7 linked regions of the Homo sapiens genome follow. The protein of the gene in region 6 purifies or fractionates together with the protein of the main gene of each other region. This does not show direct contact. Each region holds a gene or a part of one and is shown on either strand. Other genes may lie near its edges.

What was found.
Region 1: the proteins of CHST6 (region 6) and GOLPH3L purify together in Homo sapiens (affinity purification with mass spectrometry; 2 studies listed by BioGRID and IntAct, with this or other methods). This does not show direct contact.
Region 2: the proteins of CHST6 (region 6) and CANX purify together in Homo sapiens (affinity purification with mass spectrometry; 2 studies listed by BioGRID and IntAct, with this or other methods). This does not show direct contact.
Region 3: the proteins of CHST6 (region 6) and GOLPH3 purify together in Homo sapiens (affinity purification with mass spectrometry; 2 studies listed by BioGRID and IntAct, with this or other methods). This does not show direct contact.
Region 4: the proteins of CHST6 (region 6) and BACE2 purify together in Homo sapiens (affinity purification with mass spectrometry; 2 studies listed by BioGRID and IntAct, with this or other methods). This does not show direct contact.
Region 5: the proteins of CHST6 (region 6) and ALG9 purify together in Homo sapiens (affinity purification with mass spectrometry; 2 studies listed by BioGRID and IntAct, with this or other methods). This does not show direct contact.
Region 7: the proteins of CHST6 (region 6) and CLGN purify together in Homo sapiens (co-immunoprecipitation; one large-scale study listed by IntAct). This does not show direct contact.

What each region holds. Positions count from the first base shown.
Region 1 is NC_000001.11:150,659,155-150,662,654, reverse strand, and holds part of GOLPH3L (Golgi phosphoprotein 3-like), read left to right. Parts: intron 1-726; coding exon 727-841; intron 842-3,500. UniProt on the Homo sapiens protein: Phosphatidylinositol-4-phosphate-binding protein that may antagonize the action of GOLPH3 which is required for the process of vesicle budding at the Golgi and anterograde transport to the plasma membrane.
Region 2 is NC_000005.10:179,719,467-179,722,966, reverse strand, and holds part of CANX (calnexin isoform d precursor), read right to left. Parts: intron 3,300-3,500; coding exon 3,186-3,299; intron 2,564-3,185; coding exon 2,407-2,563; intron 164-2,406; coding exon 1-163. UniProt on the Homo sapiens protein: Calcium-binding protein that interacts with newly synthesized monoglucosylated glycoproteins in the endoplasmic reticulum. It may act in assisting protein assembly and/or in the retention within the ER of unassembled protein subunits.
Region 3 is NC_000005.10:32,164,320-32,167,819, forward strand, and holds part of GOLPH3 (Golgi phosphoprotein 3), read right to left. Parts: intron 1-3,500. UniProt on the Homo sapiens protein: Phosphatidylinositol-4-phosphate-binding protein that links Golgi membranes to the cytoskeleton and may participate in the tensile force required for vesicle budding from the Golgi.
Region 4 is NC_000021.9:41,272,660-41,276,159, forward strand, and holds part of BACE2 (beta-secretase 2 isoform A preproprotein), read left to right. Parts: intron 1-2,711; coding exon 2,712-2,965; 3' UTR 2,966-3,500. UniProt on the Homo sapiens protein: Responsible for the proteolytic processing of the amyloid precursor protein (APP).
Region 5 is NC_000011.10:111,865,082-111,868,581, forward strand, and holds part of ALG9 (alpha-1,2-mannosyltransferase ALG9), read right to left. Parts: intron 171-3,500; coding exon 100-170; intron 1-99. UniProt on the Homo sapiens protein: Mannosyltransferase that operates in the biosynthetic pathway of dolichol-linked oligosaccharides, the glycan precursors employed in protein asparagine (N)-glycosylation.
Region 6 is NC_000016.10:75,485,442-75,488,941, forward strand, and holds part of CHST6 (carbohydrate sulfotransferase 6), read right to left. Parts: intron 1-3,500. UniProt on the Homo sapiens protein: Sulfotransferase that utilizes 3'-phospho-5'-adenylyl sulfate (PAPS) as sulfonate donor to catalyze the transfer of sulfate to position 6 of non-reducing N-acetylglucosamine (GlcNAc) residues of keratan.
Region 7 is NC_000004.12:140,396,649-140,400,148, forward strand, and holds part of CLGN (calmegin precursor), read right to left. Parts: intron 2,393-3,500; coding exon 2,203-2,392; intron 1-2,202. UniProt on the Homo sapiens protein: Functions during spermatogenesis as a chaperone for a range of client proteins that are important for sperm adhesion onto the egg zona pellucida and for subsequent penetration of the zona pellucida.

The sequences.
Region 1 (3,500 bases), on a different chromosome or scaffold from region 6:
CTCAGTTTGTATCACTTGAGTGATCTTCTGTCCTTTCAGAGATATCATTTACCTTTATAGCTTCGTCTGTCACCTTCATGAGATTAATTTTCAAATTTCTAGGCAGGTCTTGTTTTTCCACCTCCAGAAACATATTTAACTATTGGCTAGAAATTTCAACTTGGCTATCCCATATCATTTAAAACCAAACTTAACAAAAATGAAAGAAAACCAAATTATCAACCTTTCCCCAAAACTGACTTCCTTTTCTGACTTTCCTGCCTTTGTTTATTTATTTATTTATTTATTTAAATTTTTATTTTTTTAATAGAGAAAAGATTTTGCCATTTTGCCCAGGCTGGTCTCAAACTCCTGAGCTCAGGTGATCCACCCGCCTCAGCCTCCCAAAGTGCTAAGATTACAGGCATGAGCCACTGAGCCCAGCTGTTTCCTACCTTTATTAATGGTTTCAAAAGTTGGTTTCCAGACTCAAAATGAGTTGTTATTGAAACTTTTCTCCATTATCATTCATATCCAGTTTGTCACTAGGGCCCACTTCAAATGTTATTTTTGTCTTTGCACTATCACTCCATACTATATTTTAAACTTCTTGAGGACAGAGACAGTATATTATGCTTCCTTACATTCTTGCAATTTTTAACCAGTAACATATACATGATATATTGAAAGATTTTAACTTGAATGAAGTGAAGGAATCAGGGTTCCTTCTTTCTCCTTTTCTCAAAGGTACTGCTAAAGTCAGACAGCCCAACAGGTGATGTTTTACTGGATGAAACTCTGAAACACATCAAAGCAACTGAACCCACAGAAACTGTCCAAACATGGATAGAGCTACTCACTGGTAAGATGACTTAAAATAATATATGAATTTCACACTTTGTTATCTTTATCCTACCCTGAAATTTAGTAAAAGATGTACCGAAATTCATCGTGCTGGATGAGATAGATGTGGTTCACTATTTAATTCTAATGAGGGACAGAAAAAGCATGGTTAATTGATACCTAAAGTTTTCCAAAGCTTCACCTTATCTTCTGCCACCCCACCCCAAAAGCCCTTAAATAGTATTCTTCACAAGAAACTTTTAAAACATCTTTATTGAGAGGACAATGAGAATATTGGCATTGATGCAGTCTATTATTCTTATTAGAATTTCCCAGTTTTAATTTGCCAAATAATATTTTATTGCATGGCCATACCACATTTGTTTATCCAGTCATCAGTTGATGAATCTTTGAGTTATTTCCACATTTTGGGTATTGTGAATAATGCTGCTGTGAACACGCACGGACAAGTTTTTGTTTGAACATGTTTTCATTTCTTGTGGGTATGTAGCTAGGAGTAGATAACTGGGTCATATGTAAATCAACGAGTAACATTCTTACTGTGGTAAAATATACATAACATTTATTATTATTATTATTATTTCGAGATGGAGTCTTGCTCTGTCGTCCAGGCTGGAGTACAGTGATGCAATCTCAGCTCACTGCAACCTCTGCCTCCCGGGTTCAAGCAATTCTCCTGCCTCAGCCTCCCAAGTAGCTGGGATTACAGGCACGTGCCACCACGCCTGGCTAATTTTTGTATTCTTAGTAGAGACAGGGTTTCACCATATTGGCCAGGCTTGTCTCGAACTCTTGACTTCGTGATCTGCCCGCCTTGGCCTCCCAAAGTGCTGGGATTACAGGCGTGAGCCACCGCGCCCAGCCAACATTTATTATTATTTTAGCCATTCTTAAGTGTACAATTCTGTGAAATTAAATATATTTGCAATATTTTGTAACCGTCACCTCTATCTATACTATACCCAAAGCTTCCTCATCATTACCCATTAAAACTCTGTACCTATTAAATGATAACTTCCTCTTTCTCTCTCCCCCCAGTCCCTGGCAACCTCTATTCTACTTTCTTTTTCTATGAATTTGCTTACTCTAGGTACCTCATATAAGTAGAATCATACAATATCTGTCATTACTTTCCCTAGCTTATTCACCAAGCATAATGTTTTCAAGGTCCATTCATGTCACAGCATATATCAAAATTTCATTCCTGTTTATGGCTGAGTGATATTCCGTTGTATGTATATAACACTTTCGTTTAACCATTCATCTGTTGATGGACACTTGCCTTGTTTCCACCTTTTGGCTATTGTGAATAATGCTGCTGTGAACATTGATACACAAATATCTGTTCAAGTTCCTGTTTTTAATTCTTTTGGATATATACCTAGGAATAGAATTGCTGGGTCATATAGCAGTTTTATGTTTAACCTTTTGAGAAATCACCAAACATTTCCACAGAGACTGCACCATTTTATATTCCCACCAGTATGCACCAGGGTTCCAATTTGTCCACATGCTGATCACCACTTGTTCTTCTCTTTCTTTTCTTTTTTTTAATTATAGACATCCGAGTAGGCCTAAAATGTTATCTCATTGTGGTTTTGATTTTTATTTTCAAATGAAAATAGTTTTCATGTCATTCCTAATGACTAAAAATATTGAGCATATTTTTATGTGCTTACTGACCATTTATATATCTTCTTTGGAGAAATATAAAATACTTTTCCCATTTTTAAGTTTGATTGTTTTGTTGTTGTTGAGGTTTTTTTGTATTTATTTATGAGATGCGGTCTCACTCTGTCACCCAGGATGGAGTGCCGTGGTGCAATCTCGGCTCACTGCAACCTCTATCTCCCGGGCTCAAGGATCCTCCCACCTCAGCCTCCCAAGTAACTGGGACTATGGGTGCGCACCATCACACCTGGCTAATTTTTTGTGTTTTTGGTGGAGATGGGGTTTTGCTATGTCACCCAGGCTGGTCTCTGAACTCCTGAGCTCAGACAGTCTACCCATCTTGGTCTCCCAAAATGCTGGGATTACAGGCATGAGCCACTGTGCCTGGCCAGAGGTTCTTTATATATATTCTGGATATTAATCTTGCCGAGACCAGCTCAGTTGTGGAGACCCTAACCCAGTGGCGCTAGAGGAATTAAAGACACACACACACAGAAATATAGTGTGGAGTGGGAAATCAGGGGTCTCACAGCCTTCAGAGCTGAGAGCCTTGAACAGAGATTTACCCACATATTTATTGACAGCAAGCCAATCATAAGGTTTACTAAAAGTATTCCTTATGGGAAATAAAGGGATGGGCCGAAATAAAGGGACGGGCTCTGGCTAGTTATCTGCAGCATGAACATGTCCTTAAGGCACGGATCTCTCATGCTATTGTTTGTGGTTTAAGAACACCTTAAGCAGTTTTCCGCCCTGGGTGGGCCAGGTGTTCCTTGCCCTCATTCCAGTAAACCCACAACCTTCCAGCATGGGCATCAAGGCCATCACAAGCATGTCACAGTGCTGCAGAGATTTTGTTTATGGCCAGTTTTGGGGCCAGTTTATGGCCAGATTTTTGAGGCCTATTCCCAACACGTCCCCCTTCTTTGTTTTACAAAGCAATAAAAGCAAAGGCAGCTTTGTCAAGGTGAGCTACTTCTCACAGA
Region 2 (3,500 bases), on a different chromosome or scaffold from region 6:
CATCAACTATTCTTCGATCAGCACAAATGATAAAGTTGTCAAAAAAAATGTCAGAGGTCATGGACCACAGCTCCAAACCAATAGCACTAAAAGGAGTCATTCTGAAAGGTTCCAGATCTTCAAAGAAATCTGGATTTGGTATTTTCCTGGGTTTCCAGATTCCCTAGAAAAAAAAATGTTTCAGAAAATCATTTCAGATAATGATCAACAAAAGTTTATGGTGAATCTACCGTAAGAGAAATTTTGCATGAACAATGGAGAGAAATGCCAACTTCATGAAACTTGAAATAAGCAACAGGAAAATAAATAACAAATGCTACAGATTATTTTACGCACTCTGCCTCTAAGACTGCAGGATTCCAACTACTTCCAATTTCTACTGTCACCCATGACCTTGGTCCAAACCAACCCCTCAAGTTCCTGGCCCATTCAACAGCCTCCACTCTTAGCAACTGCTAATGAGAGTGGGAGCATAAGTCAGTACGTACTTCTTCAGTGGTGATTTAAAATAAAACGCACATGATCATCAACCAGCAATTCACTTCTAGATAACTACCTAGAGAAATACTCACAACATACACCCAGACATGTACAAGGATTATTACAGCAGCAGTGACTCTGAAAGCAAAAGTGACAATCCACCTAAATGGCCACCAACAGGAGAACAACTAAAGGGCAACTTCTTTTTCACTGTAACTTCTGCCTCCTGTGTTCAAGTGATCCTTGTGCCTCAGCCTCGTGCCTAAGCAGCTGGGACTACAGGTGTGTGCCACCATACCAGGCCAATTTTTGTGCTTTTAGTAGAGATGGTGTTTCACTATGTTGGCCAGGCTGGTCTCGAATGGCTGACCTCAGGTGATCCACCCACCTCAGCCTCTCAAGTGCTGGGATTATAGGCGTGAGCCACTACGCCCAGCCTAAAGGGCAACTTTTTTAAAGTAAAACTTTTATCTTATTGTTTGACTACACAATTAAAAATACATTCACATAACATCTTTAACGACTATGAGGAAAAAAATAAAAAATTTACAAACAGAAAAACATATATTAGTATATGTATATATACATATACTATGCCAAGATCCTGCTGAAATGTTTTCACAGTATCAGACCAGCTTCTCCTGTTTCTGTATATGTATATACATATATTAGTATTTGTATATAAATAAAGTAGAAATTAATGATTATAAATAATTTTAATTGCCACTCTTTGTAGAGATTATAAATAATTTTACTTGGCTAGAAAGATAAAAGGAACAAAGGTCTGAGGGTGTACATTTTTGCATGAGGCCTAAAGCCTCACAACCTTACTACTTGTATCCTTACCATCTCTTTTGGGCCTCAGTCTTTTTATAGTTGCAAGCATTGAGGCCAAGCAGTGAGCTGACTTGATGTAGTCAAGATGCTGACTCAAACCACAGTCCTCTACCCACCACATCACAGATTGTCCAGACTCAGCTGTGGATCCTATGGCTGAAGCAACCCTAGCACCCAAGAGCAGGGTACCCAAATCAACAGTTTTCCATTTCTCTTTTGTTTTTAAATATAGTTACAAAGCAACTATGAAAGTTATTCTTGGCTGGGCACAGTGGCTCCCGCCTGAAACCCCAGGACTTCGAAAGGCGAAGGCAGGTGGATCACCTGAGGTCAGGAGTTCGAGACCAGCCTGGCCAACATGGCGAAGCCCCGTCTCTACTAAAAATACAAAAAATCAGCCAGGTGAGGTGAGCACACCTGTGAGCACACCTGTGCTCCCAGCTACTCGGGAGGCTGAGTCAGGAGAATTGCTTGAACCCAGGAGGTGGAGGTGGCAGTGTGCCGAGACTGAGCCATTGCACTCCAGCCTGGCCACTAGAGTGAGACTCAGTCTCAAAAAAAGAAAGTTGACCAGATGCAGTGGCTCACGCCTGTAATCCCAGCACTTTAGGAGGTTGAGGTGGGCGGATCGCGAGGTCAGGAGTTCGAGACCAGCCTGGCCAACATGGTGAAACACCATCTCTGCTAAAAATATAAAAATTAGCCAGGCGTGGTGGCAGGCACCTGTAATCCCAGCTACTCGGGAGTCTGAGGCAAGAGAATCGCTTGAAACCGGAAGGCAGAGGTTGCAGTGAGGCGACATCACACCACTGCCCTCCAGCCTGGGTAGAAGAGCGAAACTCCATCTCAAAAATAAATAAATAAATAAATAAATAAATAAAGTTAAAGAAAGTTATTCACTCCAGTTTCTAGGTTTATCTTTGCAATACCTAACCCATTAAGCTCTCTTTCAACTTAGGAAGTCTACTTTCTGCTTTTAATTCAACAGCTTGAATATAATGACCAACCTGGCAGCCTTACTCTAGATAAAACTTCTATCTGAATACAAACAGATTAATGAAAGCAACTCAACCATCAAGAGGCACAAACCTGGTAACTGGGATTGTCAATCATAGGAGGCTTCCATTTGCCTTTATAATTGGGGTTGTCAATCACAGGTCGCTGCCAGACACCACATCCAGGAGCTGACTCACATCTAGGGTTGGCAATCTGAGGAGCCTCCCATTCTCCATCCATGTCTTCATCCCTACGGAGGTACAAACAACAAATTATAAACAGGTTCTGTGATGCAGGACTATGAACAGCTGGCTGGCCCAGGGCTGCCAAGATCCTGCTGAAATGTTTTCACAGTATCCCAGACCAGCTTCTCCTGTATTTCCAGTAATAACAGTTTTTCAGGAAAAATTTATTTTTTAAAAAAGAAGAAAATATAATTAAAATTGTCAAATTCTACCCTGAAATTAGGGAACTTGGCTATATTTAAGTATTAAGATTGACTTCAATAAAAACAGGTAACTTATGCTGGGTGTGGTGGCTCACGCCTGTAATCCCAGCACTTTGGGAGGCCAAGGCAGACAGATCACTTGAGGTCAGGACTTTGAGACCAGCCTGGCCAACACGGTGAAAGTCCGTCTCTACTAAAAATACAAAAAATACAAAAATTTGCCGGGTGTGGTGGCACACACCTGTAATCCCAGCTACTCGCAAGGCTGATGGAGGAGAATCACTTGAACCCAGGAGGTGAAAGTTGCAGTGAGCCGAAACTGCGCCACTGAACTCCAGCCTGGGAGACAGAGTGAGACTCCATCTCAAAAAAAAAAACAAACAAAAAAACCAGGTAATTAAAAAAAGTTAACTGAAGTTCTTACCAATCCTCAGGTTTCTCTGCGTCTGGATCAGGTACGTACTCAGGCTCATCATCTAACCAGCCTTCGGGTTTTGTGGCCTCTTCATCTGGAATCTTAGCAGGGGCATCTTCATCCCTTAAATACAAAAGAAAAAGCCAGTTATGACAACACTGGTCACAGTATAGTACCACTTTGTGGATCAGAACAGAGTATTCTAAAAAAATTTGTTTTTAATCTCAAAATTTAAAATAATTCCTCTTAGAAAATACTTGTAAATCATATATCTGCTAAGGGCCTAGTAAAATAACTCTTTACAACTCAATAATATAAAGACAA
Region 3 (3,500 bases), on a different chromosome or scaffold from region 6:
AAATTTTAATATGATGGAATATACATATTTGTTTGTACACTGTAAGTGTGCCTTTTTATACATAAGAGGAGTAAGATTCTTTTTTTTTTTTTGAGACGGAGTCTCACTCTGTTGCCCAGGCTGGAGTGCAGTGGCGCGATATGGGCTCACTGCAAGCTCCGCCTCCCGGGTTCACGCCATTCTCCTGCCTCAGCCTCCCGAGTAGCTGGGACTACAGGAGCCCGCCAGCACGCCAAGCTAATTTCTTTGTATTTTTTTAGTACAGACAGGCTTTCACCATGTTAGCCAGGATGGTCTCCATCTCCTGACCTCGTGATCCACCCGCCTCAACTCCCAAAGTGTTGGGATTACAGGGGTGAGCTACCGCGCCCGGCCAAGAGTACGATTCTTTCACTACCACGCCCAGAACCAAGTTTCACTCCCTTGGCAATGACATTACCACACTGGGAATACATAATTTACTTAATAAAGCCAGTAATCTACTTAATTAATACAGTAAATGTATTAAGTAAATTTATTTAATAAGTAAATTTACTTTAATAAATAATATTAGCTTACTTAATAAGGTAAATTATGTATTCTTTTTTTTTTTTTTTTTTTGAGATAGTCTTGCTCTGTTGCCCAGGCTGGAGTGCAGTGGCATGATCTTAGCTCACTGTAACCTCCACCTCCTGGGTTCATGTGATTCTCCTGCCTCAGCCTCCCGAGTAGCTGGGATTTCAGGTGCATACCACCCTGCCTGGCTAATTTTTGTATTTTTAGTAGAGATGGAGTTTCACCATGTTGGCCAGGCTGGTCGCTAACTCCCTGCCTCAGGTAATCCCCTTGCCTCAGCCTCCCAAAGTGCTGGGATTATAGGCATGAGCCACCACACCTGCCAGGGTTAGGTAAATTATGTATTCTTAATGTGAGTAATGTCATTGTACTGAGTGACTGCCAAATGCCAGCCTGAAATATATGACATCAAAAAATTATAGAACAGGCCAGGCAGGGTGGCTCATGTCTGTAATCCCAGCACTTTGGGAGGCCAACGTGGGTGGATCACATGAGGTCATGAGTTTGAGACCAGCCTGGCCAACATGGCGAAACCTTGTCTCTACTAAAAATACAAAAAGTACCCCTGTGTGGTGGTGAGTGCCTGTAATCCCAGCTACTCAGAAGGTTGAGGCAGGAGAATCGCTTGAACCCAGGAGGCAGAGGTTGAAGTGAGCATAGATTGCACCACTGCACTCCAGCCTGGGTAACAGAGCAAGACTCTGTCTCAGAAGAGAAAAAAAAAAAATTCTAGAACAGCAACATAATTTAGTTTTGTAGTTTACTATATGAGCTTTGACACACAGAACTAAAATGAATGAACTTGAAGACAGACATGTTCTTCAGTGAATTTGTACTTAGTAAAGGGCCTCTCACAGAGCATGTGCTCAGTAAACATTTGATGAATGGATGAAAACTGTTAGAATCCTAGATGTGTGGTAATCCTAGATTAGAAGCAGTTATGCTGCTTCTAAATGTCATTTAGCAAGATGAGAACCTCTAGACAGGCCACAGAAATGTGGACTTCGTATCTCAAATCACTTAAAATTCAACTCGCTACAACCCTGGAAACCTGGAATTTTCTGTAGTTAATTTTCAGGAAGGAAAAAGAAAAGACGAAAACCTTAAGCTAAAACAAACAGTTCCTGTTTGGTAATTTTTAACCTTCCTGATTCACTAAATGCTTTGAGTATCTAATGAAAGTTCTGTCCTCTTTCCCCAAGAAAACACACAACTGCAGAGAATTCACAAAGTTTCTCAGCTCTGTTCACTCCAATTTAAGAACTTCTCCATTAAAGGAATATGTAAATCAAATACAATGCATTAAGTTTAAAAATAAGTAAATTTTTTTGTTGTTGTTTAAAATGTTATTCTTAAAAGTGACCAGAAACATCCTTGTTGGCAATACACTGTACTTTAATATTAGTTGTGTTTTTGCAGATGAGAGGTTTACCAAACGGGAAGAGAAATAGCCTATGTTCTAAATATATTTGTAATACCTAAGTCAAAAACCTCAAAATGTACTAGATTACATTGTAATACTGTACAATGCTATTAAAACAGGTTGCAGTCTTCCCAGCTTTGATAAGAGAAACCTGAAGCCAAAAACATCAATTTCAAAATGAAGCCAGGTTTCCACTTTTGGCACTTGTCAGGACACTTACTAAAAAGCAGCAGCATGGCCGGGCACAGTGGCTCATGCCCAGACCTTTGGGAAGGCGAGGTGGGCGGATCACTTGAGGTCAAGAGTTCGAGACCAGCCTGGCCAACATGGTGAAACCCCATCTCTACTAAAAATACAAAAATTAGCTGGGCATGGTGGCAGGCGCCTGTAATCCTAGCTACTTGGGAGGCTGAGGCAGGAGAATCACTTGAACCCAGGAGGCGGAGTTGCAGTGGGCCAAGACGGTGCCATTGCACTTCAGCCCGAGTGATAAAAGCAAGACTCCATCTTAAAAAAAAAAAAAAAGCAGGAGGAGGACAAGCACTGTCTTTTTGTGCTGCTTCAAAGGGAGACTCACAACATGAAGATAAATCCTCTAAACAAAGACTACAGCATAGTTTTATACTATTTAATCTGATTAATGGCAGTAGAAAAGTTATGCTGTTAGAAGGGGGGGGGAGTTTGCAAAGACATAAAAAAGTGTACAGCCAAAAGCTTAACATTATGTACCAGAACAAGCATAATGCCTGATGCCTCCAGGGTATTTAAGATTTACATGTAAGATGATATTATAAAAGTGTATTTCTTTAAATATCAAAAAAATCCCCCAAATATTTCAAAATCTATCAAAATAACTTCAAAATACAATTCTTTTGTTTTGTTTTGTCTTTTGAGATGGAGTTCCACTCTTGTCGCCCAGGCTGGAGTGCAGTGGCGCAATCTTGGCTCACTGCAACCTCCGCCTCTCAGGTTCAAGTGATTCTCCTGCCTCAGCCTCCCGAGTAGCTGGGATTACAGGTGCTCGCCACCATGTCTGGCTAATTTTTATATTTTTAATAGAGACAGGGGTTCACCATGTTGGCCAGGCTTGTCTTGAACTCCTGACCTCAGGTGATCCATCCACCTCGGCTTCCCAAAGTACTGGGATTACAGGTGTGAGCCACCGCACCCAGCCTTCAAAATACAATTCTAAAACGTAATTCAAATGCTCCATACAAGAACTCTCAGGTAGTCCAAAATTAACAAATATCAAATATTAGTATAACTTATGAGATGAGTTAGTGAATATTTTGACCATATTGTAAAAGAATCCCAAAGCACTAAAAAGTAATTTCAACAGTATAAAATCTTGTTGAAAAGGTATAATAAGCAGACCAGGCGTGGTGGCTCACACCTGTAATCCCAGAACTTTGGGAGGCCAAGGCGGGAAGATTGCTTGAGGCCAGGAGTTCGAGACTAGGCAACATAGTGAGACCACGTCTCTACAAAAAAAAATTTTTTTTTTTAATTAGCTGGGCATGAT
Region 4 (3,500 bases), on a different chromosome or scaffold from region 6:
TCTCTATTTAACATGTTTAACATTTTCTCTGGCATCCTGAGTAGAATACAGTTATAATAAATATCTTGATATCCTGCCTGCTAATTCTATCATCTGTGCCATTTCTTACTAAGTTCCAATTGATTGATTTTGCTCCCTATTATGAACTGTGTTTTCCTGCTTCTTTGCATAATTAGTGCTGTAGAATCAATGTTTATGTCCTGCCAAAATTCTTATGTTGAAACCTATCGGGGGAACCTGCCCCCGATAATTCAACATTATTTCACGTAGGTTCTTTTCTATTTCCTTAAGTGTCAGCCGGTCTGAGAAATAAAGGGAAAGAGTACAAAAGAGAGAAATTTTAAAGCTGGGTGTCCAGGGAAGACATCACATGTCGGCAGGTTCGTGATGCCCCCTGAGCTGCAAAACCAGCAAGTTTTTATTAGTGATTTTCAAAGGGGAGGGAGTGTACGAATAGGGTGTGGGTCACAGAGATCACATACTTCACAAGGTAATAAAATATTACAAGGCAAATGGAGGCAGGGCAAGATCACAGGACCAGGGCGAAATCAAAATTGCTAATGAAGCTTTGGGCACGCATTGTCATTGATAACATCTTATCAGGAGACAGGGTTTGAGAGCAGACAACTGGTCTGACCAAAATTTATTAGGCGGAAATTTCCTTGTCCTGATAGGCCTGGGAGCGCTATGGGAGACCGGGGCTTATTTCATCCCTTATCGGCAACCGTAAAAGACAGACATTGCCAGAGCAGCCATTTCAGGGACCTACCCCTAGGAACACATTCTTTTTCTCAGGGCTGTTCCTGCTGAGAAAAATAATTCAGCGATATTTCTCCTATTTGCTTTTGAAAGAAGAGAAATATGGCTCTGTTCCGCCCGGCTCTCAGGCAGCCAGACCTAATGGTTATCTCCTTTGTTCCCTGAACATTGCTGTTAGCCTGTTCTTTTCTCAAGGTGCCCAGATTTCATATTGTTTAAACAATTTGTGCAGTTAACACAATCATCACAGGGTCCTGAGGTGGCATACATTCTCAGCTTAGGAAGATGATGGGATTAAGAGATTAAAGTAAAGACAGCATAGGAAATCACAAGAGTATTGATTGGGGAAGTGATAAATGTCCATGAAATCTTCACAATTTATGTTCAGAGATTGCAGTAAAGACAGGCGTAAGAAATTATAAAAGTACTAATTTAAGGAACTAATAAATGTCTGAAATCTTCACAATTTATGTTCTTCTGCCATGGCTTTGGCCAGTCCCTCCGTTCGGGGTCCCTGACTTCCCGCAACAGAAACCTAATCTCCAAGGTGATGATATTTGGAGTTGGGGCCTTTGGAAGGTGATTAGGTCACGAGGGCAGAGCTTTTCTTTGTAAATGGAATTACTGCCCATTATTAAAGACAGTCCAAGAGAGCTCCCTTGTCTCTTCCACCATGTAAAGACACAGCAAGAAGATCATTATCTACAAACCAGGAAATGGGAGTATAGATTGACTGCAGGGTGCATCCCTCTGTTCTCGGTGTTGGCAGGCTCTTGTTCATTGCCTTTCTTTTTCAGTGCACTTAGGAAAGCCATATTATGACAGAATCCACATTAGCAAGAAAATGCAGTCACTTTGCAAAGTAATCAAGCCTGTTTTCCTCTGATTTTAAAACCATTCTTTTCAGGTCATTATCGCATTGTTATTTTGACTTTTTCTTTCCTCAGTCAAAAAGGGTATTATTTGGCAGCTCTGAAGATCTTGAGGCTTTAGTTACAGAAAAATCAAATTCTTAGCAGTGTTATTTTCTGGTGCCAAAATATTCATTTCTGTGATTAAATATAGGAAAAATGGGTAATGAGGCCTATTTCTTTTCCGTATTGCAAGTAAAGCTTAAGATCCCATATTCCTGAAAGGGGCAGAGAAGCCTAGTGTAGGCAAAGGAAGTCTACAGATAATCCACAAACCGGCTTTAAGAAATCATCTCAACTTCCTTCTTGGTTTGAAGTTATTCAAGAGTCTCTAGCAGAAGTCACCGGGTGAATTTTAACTGTTTCTCTTTGTCACCAGTGATGTCATGAATTAGGTGTTGCATTCACTTACTGCTCCTGGCTGTTGATGAGACCTAGGATAAGAGTGGGGCAGGGAGGGTCTCTCAAGCCAGCCTGACCCCCGGAGGTCTCACAACCCACTAAGACTATGAGTCAGGTTGATATGAGGTCCCTATCTGTTGTAGAATCCATGGTAGGGAGTGAACTCAGGTTGACTCCACTGGGGAAAATTCCCCATGACGTAGGCAGGTCCAGCTGAGCTTTCTGCGGTAAATTCTCCTTCTCTTTCTCCTCTTTTTTCATCTCCACTGAGGAAGCACAACCCACACAGCTGTCATGACCAGGTGCTGACCTGCACTCTCACCTGTGTAGTACCGCAGTGTCGCTGGCATTCCATGAAGCACAGGGTGCTTCCATATGTGCCCTGCTGCAGTTCCCCTCCACACCTAGGCTCGGTACCCACACACCTTAAAACATGCCGTCGTTCCAGTTTGCAGGGACTGGACCCCCAAAGGCACGCTGAGCCGTGACCCCACTCAGTGCTTCCTGAGCTGTCTAAGCCACTGGGACCTCAGTGGACTTTAACTGTGGTTTAATAAACCAAGGGGTTCTGTCTGTGTCCAATGTGAGAGGTGGACCGCTCATTTCACAGCTGTGGATTTTCCCTTTCTGTCTCCCCAGAAATTGCAGGTGCTGCAGTGTCTGAAATTTCCGGGCCTTTCTCAACAGAGGATGTAGCCAGCAACTGTGTCCCCGCTCAGTCTTTGAGCGAGCCCATTTTGTGGATTGTGTCCTATGCGCTCATGAGCGTCTGTGGAGCCATCCTCCTTGTCTTAATCGTCCTGCTGCTGCTGCCGTTCCGGTGTCAGCGTCGCCCCCGTGACCCTGAGGTCGTCAATGATGAGTCCTCTCTGGTCAGACATCGCTGGAAATGAATAGCCAGGCCTGACCTCAAGCAACCATGAACTCAGCTATTAAGAAAATCACATTTCCAGGGCAGCAGCCGGGATCGATGGTGGCGCTTTCTCCTGTGCCCACCCGTCTTCAATCTCTGTTCTGCTCCCAGATGCCTTCTAGATTCACTGTCTTTTGATTCTTGATTTTCAAGCTTTCAAATCCTCCCTACTTCCAAGAAAAATAATTAAAAAAAAAACTTCATTCTAAACCAAAACAGAGTGGATTGGGCTGCAGGCTCTATGGGGTTCGTTATGCCAAAGTGTCTACATGTGCCACCAACATAAAACAAAACCAAGCCTTGGCTCGTTCTCTTCTCTCTTCAATCTCTGGAAAAATAAGTACATATAGTTGATAACCCCTCTTAGCTTACAGGAAGCTTTTTGTATTAATTGCCTTTGAGGTTATTTTCCGCCAGACCTCAACCTGGGTCAAAGTGGTACAGGAAGGCTTGCAGTATGATGGCAGGAGAATCAGCCTGGGGCCTGGGGATGTAACCAAGCTGTACCCTTGAGA
Region 5 (3,500 bases), on a different chromosome or scaffold from region 6:
TTTTCTATTTCTAATCACTGCCTAGACTATCACAACAGATAATCTATGCAATAATGGGTTTCCTCACAGCACTTTTAGAAGCAAAGTTTTTATACTCACTTGTAAAAGTAAAGTTCACAAATACAGCTCACAAAAGCCAGAAGACATCGCAAAAAGTAAAACACAAGAATCTAAAAGAAACCCAGAAAAAGAAAACAGAAGTCACAGATATGAGCTAGAAAAACTCATAAACATGAACCACTCTCATTTATTGTCAATAACACTGTAAATTGGTATAATTCTTTTGAAAAGCAACATGGATCAAGAATTTTCATATCCCTTGACTCAATATCAGTATACCTACTTCTATCACTCCAGCTGGTGGGGGTTGGGAGGTAGAGCTCCATTCATGAAAATGTTAATTGCAGTTTTAGTAAAAACTGTTTCAAAAACTACAAAATATCCAATTATAGGGAAATGATTAAATAAACTAGGCTACATCTAGCTCATGGACAATTATACAGCTATTAAAATTTATGTTTACAAAGATAGTGAAAACATTCTTGCAATATAATGCTCATTCAACAAGCAATTCTTCAACAACCATAATATATCAGGTAGTGATTATGACAAAATATTAAGAGAAAATGTACAATATTATTTATACATCAGTTACAGCTATGGACACTATATGCATGTGGAAAGACTGGAAAGAAATGTAATAAAATGGTAAAAGTAGCTATAGCAACCTGGTAGATTTAGATGAGTATTTTTCCTCCTATCTTCCAAAGTTCTGTTATGTGGCTTTATTAATTTTATAATTGACATCAATTTAAAAAATAAAAATAATAAAATAGGGGTTATATTAAGTAGCTTTATACTACAGAATACCATATGGTTAAGAGCACTGAATTTCTCAGAACTTAAACACTACTTAATATATAGTATAACTGGCCGGGCATGGTGGCTCACACTTGTAATTCCAACACTTTGGGAGGCCGAGGCAGGCGGATCACTTGAGGTCAGGAGTTCGAGACCAGCCTGGCCAACATGGTGAAACCCCATCTCTACTAAAAATACAAAAAAATTAGCCAGGCATGGTGGCGGGCAACTGTAACCCCAGCTACTCGGGAGGCTGAGGCAAGGGAATTACTTGAACCTGGGAGTCGGAGGTTGCAGTGAGCCGAGATCGTGCCACTGCACTCCAGCCTGGCGACAGAGTGAGACTCCATCTCAAAAACAAACAAAAAAAATGGGCCTACTTGTGGGATCTCACTCCTGAGTGTACACTTCAGAGAAATTCACGAACAGGTCCATGAAGAGATAATACAAAGGTGCTTTCATTTGGGGTAGCAAGAGATTGAGAAGGTAGCTATCACTAGATGTGCCAATTGTTACCACCCTGTCTCTCAGAAACAACCATCCTTCTCTACTCAACGTTATGATGCTGGGGCTAAGACTCTCTAAGCTACAATTCCCCTTTGCTGAATGGCTAGGAAAAAGGAGATCAGAAGTAAGAACAAGAGAAGAAGAGAAATCTTGCTTTCCATTTCACTTGCTGTGCACATCAGTGATGTAACAGGATTAGAGAAGAGGAAGAATTCTGTGTTGAACATGTAAAATTTGAAGTGATACTAGATAGCCAAATGGAAATAAAAACCCTCTGCATAGCACATTGTTAGTTTTCTGCTGAGCCCTTCACCCTTTATTATCTTTCCTTTGACAAGTTCAAAAAAAAAAACCAGAAATGAGGCCAGGTGCAGTGGCTCACGCCCGTAATCCCAGCACTTTGGAGGCCAAGGCAGGTGGATCACTTGAGGTCAGGAGTTTGAGACCAGACTGGCCAACATGGTGAAACCCTGTCTCTACTAAAAATACAAAAAAATTAGCCACACGTGGGGGCTCAAGCTTGTAATCCCAGCCACTCAGGAGGCTGAGGCAGGAGAATCACTTGAATCCGGGAAACGGAGGTTGCTGTGAGCCGAGATCACATCACTGCACTCCAGCCTGGGCGACAGAGTGAGACTTCGTCTCAAAAACAAACCAAACAAACAAACAAACAAAAAAATGGAAATGAGATACCGGATAGGGAAGGGAGGGACAGTATTTTGTCACTTTCTGCAGGTGCCACCTTTCTGATCATTCTAAAATGTAAATGCAATCATACCTCTCTTTTGTCTGAAAACCTTGCAGTGGCTTTACATAACAGACTTGGGGGGAAAAGAACAACAGTCTAATACCTTAATAGATCCTACCAGGTCTTGTAGAAATCTCAAACTGAATGAAAACAGTCCATCGATAGATTCCAACACCAAGATGACAGAGGTGTCAGAATTATCTAACAAAATTTAAAGCGGGCTTTGTAAAAATATTTCAGTGAATAACTAAGAATATGCTTGAAGCAAATGAAAAAGGAGAAGGTCTCAGTAAAAAAAATTAGAAGATATAAAGAAAAACTGAATGGAAATTTTAAAACTGAAAAAGTACATAGAACAAACTAAAAATGCAATGGACGGGGTCAGCATTGGAAGAGGGGACATAGGAAAGAATCAGTGAAGTGGAAGACAGAAGAAAAGAAATTACTCAATGTGAACAACAGTTCATTCAGTTTGAGATCTTCCTGATTCTCGGTATGACAGGTCATTTTCAGTTGAAAGCTGGACATTTTAGGTATTGCATTATGAGATTCTGGATTATTCATGGGCTCAGCATGCTTTCTTTGCACTGTTGTGCTCCTACGATCTTATTTAAGCTTTCTGTTTTAGCTGGCTTCTTTTGATACTACTTCCCACTAACCCAGCAGGGAAAGAGCGTTAGTGGGAAGTCTCTACCTTGTTACCGCCAAGTGGAGGTAGAACTCGAGGTTCCCTACCAGGCCTCCACTGACCATTGAGAGAAAATAAATTGAAAACAGAGTCTCAAAGACCTGGGGGACTAATAACAAAAGATCTGACATTCACATCATCAAAGTTCCAGAAGAAGAGGAAACCGGACAGGGCTGAAAAAGTATTCAAAAAAATAAAAACTAAAACCTTTCCAAATTTGGCAAAAGGAATAAGCCCAAAGATTCAAGAAGCTGAATAAACTCCAAACAGGACAAACCCAAAGAAATCCACACCAAGACGCATCATAGTCAAATTTCTGAAAACTAATCAGGTTAGGTCCCAGTTAACATCTAATTATTTCTCAGCACTCTACTTAAATTAGACCCTCCTAATATGCTATTCCACCGTACATTGTACTTTTCCTCCATAAGACCCACCATATTTAGAATGATTTGTTCAATGTTCATCTTCTCCACTAAACCACAAGTTTCATTAAGTCAGGGGCTTGGTTACTGTTATAGCCACAGCACTTAATACAGTGTCTACCAAATAAAAGTTGTTTCATTAATGCTTGTTGAATGGTGAATTGGATAAATGATTCTTCTTCAAAAAAAGTTCCCTTTTAACTTCCAATTCATTTTGTCCTTTTCTCAAAACTATACCAGAGACTCACCTCTTGATCAATTGTGATTGCTT
Region 6 (3,500 bases):
GCAACAGAGTGTGACCCTCTTTCTTAAAAAAAATCAAAAACCTAAAACCAGAGCAAAACACTCCAGCTCACAGCTGAAGCTCACAGCTCACAGCTGAAGTACTGAGAGTACATTTCCTTTCTTGTTTTTTCTTGTTTCCCTTAGTTTTCCTTGGGGCTAATTGCATTAGATATTAGAAACGTTGAAAGAAAAATTTAAAAGATGTGAAAAGTAGAACAAAAAACATAAATGACAGATAAAGGTTGGAAAATAGAGAAGAGATAAGATCAGCAAAAGATTCATCCAGGAAAGCCAGTGCTCAGGATCCCGATCCTGGCAGAGCTGACAATCAAGTTGGGGACACTGAAGACACATCTGGCTATGTGACGGTCAAGGGACCTGATGGTGTCCCAGTGGATGGCCTGGACATCCAGCCGCGGGAGGGTCATGCTGGTCCTGGCTGCATCCTTATCTCCTGGATTCCAGCAAAGTCCCCACCTGGCCTCCCTTCAGTCCATCTTGTACAGTTGCCCCCAGAGGTGCCTACACCACACATCTGATCCTGTCATTCTCCTTTTCAGTAACCTTCAGCTTTCCAGCCTTATCTCCCATATCCCAGGCTTCAGATGGCCGGGAATAATCAGTGTTCATCAAACAAGCTCCATCTCTCCCAACTCCCTCACCCATGCTATGAGTGCGCAGCCCTGACTCCCACTGGGAGGCATTTCAGCCTCGCCTGCAGCCACCTCCTCTGTGCCTGTCAAGGCATGCCCCACTCTGCCCTGCATTGTACTTTGCTTTCCCTTCTTGCCTGTGAGCAACCCGGAACTTTGGATTGTGGTTTTTCGCAAGCGAACACCTGTTCTCCGGTGACTAGTGTGAGGATCAGCACTGCACAGGTGCACTGGACATGCTTGGTTCTGTCCACTCAGTACCCGTTTTTCCTTCTGATAACAGTCTCTAGGCTTTTCCCTGGGGAATCACCCTCACCCACTCAAAAGTGCATGTGGCTCAGATGGGGCTGATCCACCACTCCCGGCTCCTAAGGGTCATGTGTCCCAAGACAGACCCACCTCTATATTCCACACACTGACCCTGCCCCCCCAGCCCACACAGAACTATTGGCCTAGGAATGGGACATCTGCTCAACTGCAATTCTGGAGTTTTGTTGATCACAAGGGAAGAGGAAACTGCCTAGGTTTAAAATCAACAACAGAAGAGAACTCAGCAGAGAAAGTTCACAGGCAAGCTGACAGCACCATCTAAGCATTTGGATCCAGTTGTGCAAGGCTTACCCATGGACCCCTCAGCTGAGGGAAGCATTCACTTTCTGCTTAAGTCCTTGGGAGATGAGTTTCTGTCACTTACACCCAAGAGTGGTGATTAGATAGTGACAGTGAAACCCTTGGTGGGGTGAGGTGGGAAGGGTGCAGGGGCAGAGCTTCTGGGGGCTGGCCCTGCGTTGTTTCTCTCTGACAGTGCTAATTACATGGGTGTGTTCAGTTTGTGAAAGTTCACCAAGCTGTACTTTCATTATATGTACTCTGAAGAATGGCATACTTCAATAAAAAGTAAAGAATCCTGACTGAAGAAGATAGTAAGAGTCATGTCAAGGAATGTCCCAAACAACAAATGAGTAGAGGACATGAACAAATACTTGCCATTGCACTCAGATACTCTGTGGTCCACATCCAGAGGGAGGAATTCCCCAGTAGCCCACATGGCTTTCTGCCGAGCACCTTAAAGTCACAGGATCTTCTAAACATCCCTTACCATTTCTTGGCCTGGCCTGAGAGACCTAGGAAGGAGCTATGGTTCTGCCTGATTTGCAAATAGGAAAAGCAAGACATTGACCAAGGATGGTTTTCCATAGCAGGGTTGAGCTGGAGCCCAGGAGTCCTGGCTCTCTGGGCAGCACTCACTTCCAGCCAAGCTCTGCCTACCCTCGACACAGCAGCTCCAGGCCGGGAGTGGTGGCTCACACCTGTAATACCAGCATTTTGGGAGGCTGAGGCAGGTGGCTCACCTGAGGTCAGGAGTTTGGGACAAGCCTGACCAACACGGTGAAACCCCATCTCTACTAAAAATACAAAAATTTGGCCAGGCGTGGTGGCTCACGCCTGTAATCATAGCACTTGGGAGGCTGAGTAGGGTGGATCACAAGGTCAAGAGATCGACATCTTCTTGGCTAACACAGTGAAACCCTGTCTCTACTAAAAATACAAAAAATTAGCCGGGCGTGGTGGCGGGCACCTGTAGTCCCAGCTACTCAGGAGGCTGAGGTGGGAGAATGGCGTGAATCTGGGAGGCAGAGCTTGCAGTGAGCTGAGATCGTGCCACTGCACTCCAGCCTGGGTGACAGACAGAGTGAGACTCCGTCCCCCCTAAAAAAAAAAAAAAAAAAAAAAAGAGAAAAAATACAAAAATTAGCCAGGTGTGGTGGTGGGCACCTGTAATCCCAGCTACTCGGGAGGCGGAGTCAGGAGAATCGCTGGAACCCAGGAGGCAGAGGTTGCAGTGAGCTCAGATCATGCCACTGCACTCTAGCCTGGCAACAGAGTAACACTCCACCTCAAAAAACAAACAAACAAACAAAACCAAAACAACAACAAGACACAGCAGCTCTTCTTGTTACCAGCCTGTTCCAGCCCTGTTCATAGAATCTAAGGGAACAAAATGTAACACTAGGTATAGATCCCAGGTTTAGATTTCTCTGTTTAGAGTTGGCTGGAGGTCATCCCTGTTCGAGAATCCCAAAGCCACCTGGGCACGGTGGCTCATGTCTATAATCCCAGCACTTTGGGAGGCCGAGGCAGGTGGATCACCTGAGGTCAGGAGTTTGAGACCAGCCTGGCCAACATGGTGAAACCTCGTCTCTACTAAAAATACAAAAATTAGCCACCATGGTGGCAGGTGCCTATTTGTAACCCCAGCTACTCCAGAGGCTGAGGCAGGAGAATTGTTTGAGTCTGGGAGGTGGAGGTTGCAGTGAGCAGAGATCATGAGCCATTGCATTCCAGCCTGGGCAACAAGAGCAAAGCCCCGTCACAAGGAGAAAAAAAAAAAAAAAAGAATCCCAAAGGCTGGAAAAAACATACCCAATGAGGAGTCAGTGGCCTTGAGGCATCAAGAGCTACAACTGGGGCCAAACTGCTCTAGTGGAGCCCTGGGCATTTGGAAGGGGGAAGGCTAACAAGGAGCAAAAGAAAGAGGAAGAAAGAAGAGAGAAGAAAACAGAAAATGAGACAAAACATAAAGCAGGGAACATAAAACATAAAACAGGCCAGGTGCGGTGGCTCATGCCTGTAATCCCAGCACTTTGGGAGGCCAAGGTGGGTGGATCACATGAGGTCTGTAATGGGAGGCTGAGGCAGGAGAATCGCTTGAACCCGGGAGGTGGAGGTTGCAGTGAGCCTAGATCACGCCATTGCACTCCAGCCTGGGCAACAAGAGTGAAACTTCGTCTCAAAGAAAAACAAAACCAAAAACAAAACATAAAACATAAAGATGGAAGGTGAGTG
Region 7 (3,500 bases), on a different chromosome or scaffold from region 6:
CGGGTTCAAGCAATTCTCCTGCCTCAGCCTCCAGAGTAGCTGGGATTACAGGCACCTGCCACCACGCCTGGCTAAGTTTTTGTATTTTTAGTAGAGATGGGGTTTCACTATGTTGGCCAGGTTGGTCTTGAACTCCTAACGTCAGGTGATCCACCCACCTCAGCCCCCCAAAGTGCTGGGATTACAGGCATGAGCCACCATGCCTGGCTGGAGCATATATATATACATATATATATATATATGTATATATATATATATGTATATATATATATATACACATATATATATATACACATAGCTTCATTCTTAACAGTTGCATAGTTTTCTACTTGAGGATACACCATAATTTATTTAGCTTATCTCCTCTTGGAGGACATTTAGTGTTTCCAAAATTTTACTATTATTAATACAAACAATGCCATAGTGAATGTCCTAGAATATATGCCATTTCTCATCTGTGAAAATATAATTGTTAAGAGTATGGACATTTTAAATTTTGATAGTAGCATCCAAATTACTCTCTATAATGGTTACACTCCACTTCCGGTTCTACCAGCAGCATGCAAAAGTACCTATTTTCTCCTGTCCTTGCGAAGAGTGTTACCAAACTTCTTGATTTCTGCCCATGTGGTAGGTGAAAAATGGTATCTCACTGAACTTTGAATGTACATTTAGTAGCATAAGTGATACACAAAAACTATTTTTTCTTAGCTCATTACCTTTATACTAAGAAATTAGCTCTCTGTCAGCTATATGATTGAAAATAATTTTTCCTGGTTCTTGTGTGTTTTTTGAAATAGTTTAGGGAGGTTTTTTTTTTTGCAATATACAAATCATTTATTTTCATGTAGTTGAACTTATTTTTAAAGGATTCTTGGATTTTATGTCATATTTGGAAAGTTCTTCCCTATTCCAATATAATTTTTAAAACTCTCCTTATTTAATTCTAGCATTCTTATTTTAAAAAGAACACTTAGGCTGGCGTGGTGGCTCAAGCCTGTAGTCTCAGCACTTTGGGAGGCTGAGGCGGGAGGATCACGAGATCGGGAGTTCGAGACCAGCCTGACCAACATGGTGAAATCCCATCTCTACTAAAAATACAAAAATTAGCCGGGCGTGGTGGCGCTTGCCTGTAATCCCACCTACTCATGAGGCTGAGGCAGGAGAATCCCTTGAACCCAGGAGGCAGAGGCTGCAGTGAACTGAGATCACGCCATTGCATTCTAACCTGGGTGACAGAGCGAGATTCCATCTCAAACAAAAACAAAAACAAAAACAAAACACTTAGTAAATTCTGAAGTATATAAACATAAAGTACTGAACTACTAATACAATTTTCATCATTACAGAAAGATAGAAATTTTAAACAAGAGGACACTTCATGATTTTCCAAATGAGTTACAAAATAAACAGAAATAATCAACTTTACAAATGTATAGATTTGTGCTTGCCTGATACCAATGTCATCTTGAGTTTCTGAGTGCTCAGAGTAACCAAAAGTTAAAATTTAATGGAGCATTTCTTTTAGTACTTTGTAAAACAAATTCTAACACATTTCAACAATCAGAATGAAGCAGTTATATGTGGTTTCTCTCATTTAAGGGCAAACATACTCTTTTTTTTTTTTTTTTTTTTTTTTGAGACAGAATCTTGCTCTGTCACCAGGCTGGAGTGCAGTGGCACGACCTTGGGCTCACTGCAGCCTCTGCCTCCTGGGTTCAAGCAATTCTCCTGCCTCAGCCTCCCGAGTAGCTGGGATTACAGGCACCCGCCGCCATGCCCGCTAATTTTTGTGTTTTTAGTAGAGACGGGGTTTCGCCATGTTGGCCAAGCTGGTTTCGAACTCCTGACCTCAGGTGATCTGCCCACCTCGGACTCTCACACACATACAATAAAGATCAAACTAGGAATGAAAATTAAAGCACTGGTATTTTGGATTTATGAAATTTTTAATCCACAGCATTGAAAACATAAAAAATAAATATATATTAAAAAATGCAACATAATTATCAATAGAAATAAAAAAAAATTACAGGGAGGGAAGTGTAAAATCCATTTTAGAAAATATTTCACCCAAAATACTAAAAATAAGTAGTTCTGATGTTTAAAAAAATAAACTTCATGGGTTGTAAACTTCACTTATATGTTGTTTCATTACCTAGTTATGCCAGATAATGCTTTGCTACCGAATTATTTGCTTACCAGTCTTCTGGTTTGACGGCAGAAGGATCAGGAATTTTTGCTCTTTCATCCCATTCCTCAGGTTTTTTATCATTGGGATCTTCAATTTCTTTGGGAGGTTTGATAGGAGGAACCACATCCTCTAGGAGGCTTCCTTTGTTTACAACTGTTTGATCAACTAACACCTCAAATGTGTCATCTGGATTCATCACTAAGGGACCAATTTAAATAAATTATAGTTATCATTTTGATATACGCTTTAAAGATAATCTTCTAAATAATGTAACTACCCTTAACTCCATGGGTAAAGCTTTTTTCCCAACCAGAAATAGAGGAATAACCAATGTATTGAACTAAAACATTCTAAAATCACTAGATACATTTCCTAAAGATAAAATTTTGTTTTAAACTGCATTTTTTACAATAAAATGCTCCATTACTTCTCAAATAAAAAATAATACCAAATAGCTCTGTTTTGGGACTCATAACGAGTCAGCTTCACTCTTTTATAGTTACAAAATACAAGCTAATCTTTTTCAGCATTTAATTTTTTTGATACCATCTTAAAGTGTTGTAAGTATAACAAAAAATTAATTTATTCTGTTCTAGTAATATTTTCTCATTATTTCTACAGTTTACTTGGTGTTCCCCCAAATGCCTAGTTTTTTCAATTATTTCATAAAGATATTTATTATATCACATCTGATATTGAAGATGAAATGGGCATTGCCCGAGCAGACAAAATGAATGTTTCTACCACTGCAGCATTTGGGGAAAAAGATTGAAATACTTTAATCTTGGGTGGAGTTGAGACGTGAGAAAGGAAGCCAATAGGGCCATTTCAAAATGTCCTATTAGGTTCCAATATGCTCTGATTTTGATAGTGGGCTGACCAGAGCTCTACAGCCATTATACTTGAGAATGGGAGAAACAACTGCTTATGATGTCCCTCACCCCCATATCTATGCAAATTCCTATTTACTTAAGTATATTAATATATGGCTGCTCAATGCTTCTCCTTTCGAAGTACATGCCACAACCAACACAAGGTAGGACATAACAATAATCACAACTGCCTACAGAATAAAGTCTAAACTTTTTAGTCTGGCATTAAGGGCCTCTTCCTTTTTATTTTTTAGTTTTCTGTTCTGGCCTCTTCCTTTTTATTTTCTAGTTTTCTGTTCTTACAGCACCACTGTCACAACGTCTAAAATGTCCTTTCACCCTACTGTCTTCAACATTCTATCTGTACTTCAAGACGAGTTCAAATATAATCTTTCCTAGCTTTGTTCCAAGTCTCTAAGCTGGAAGTAATATTG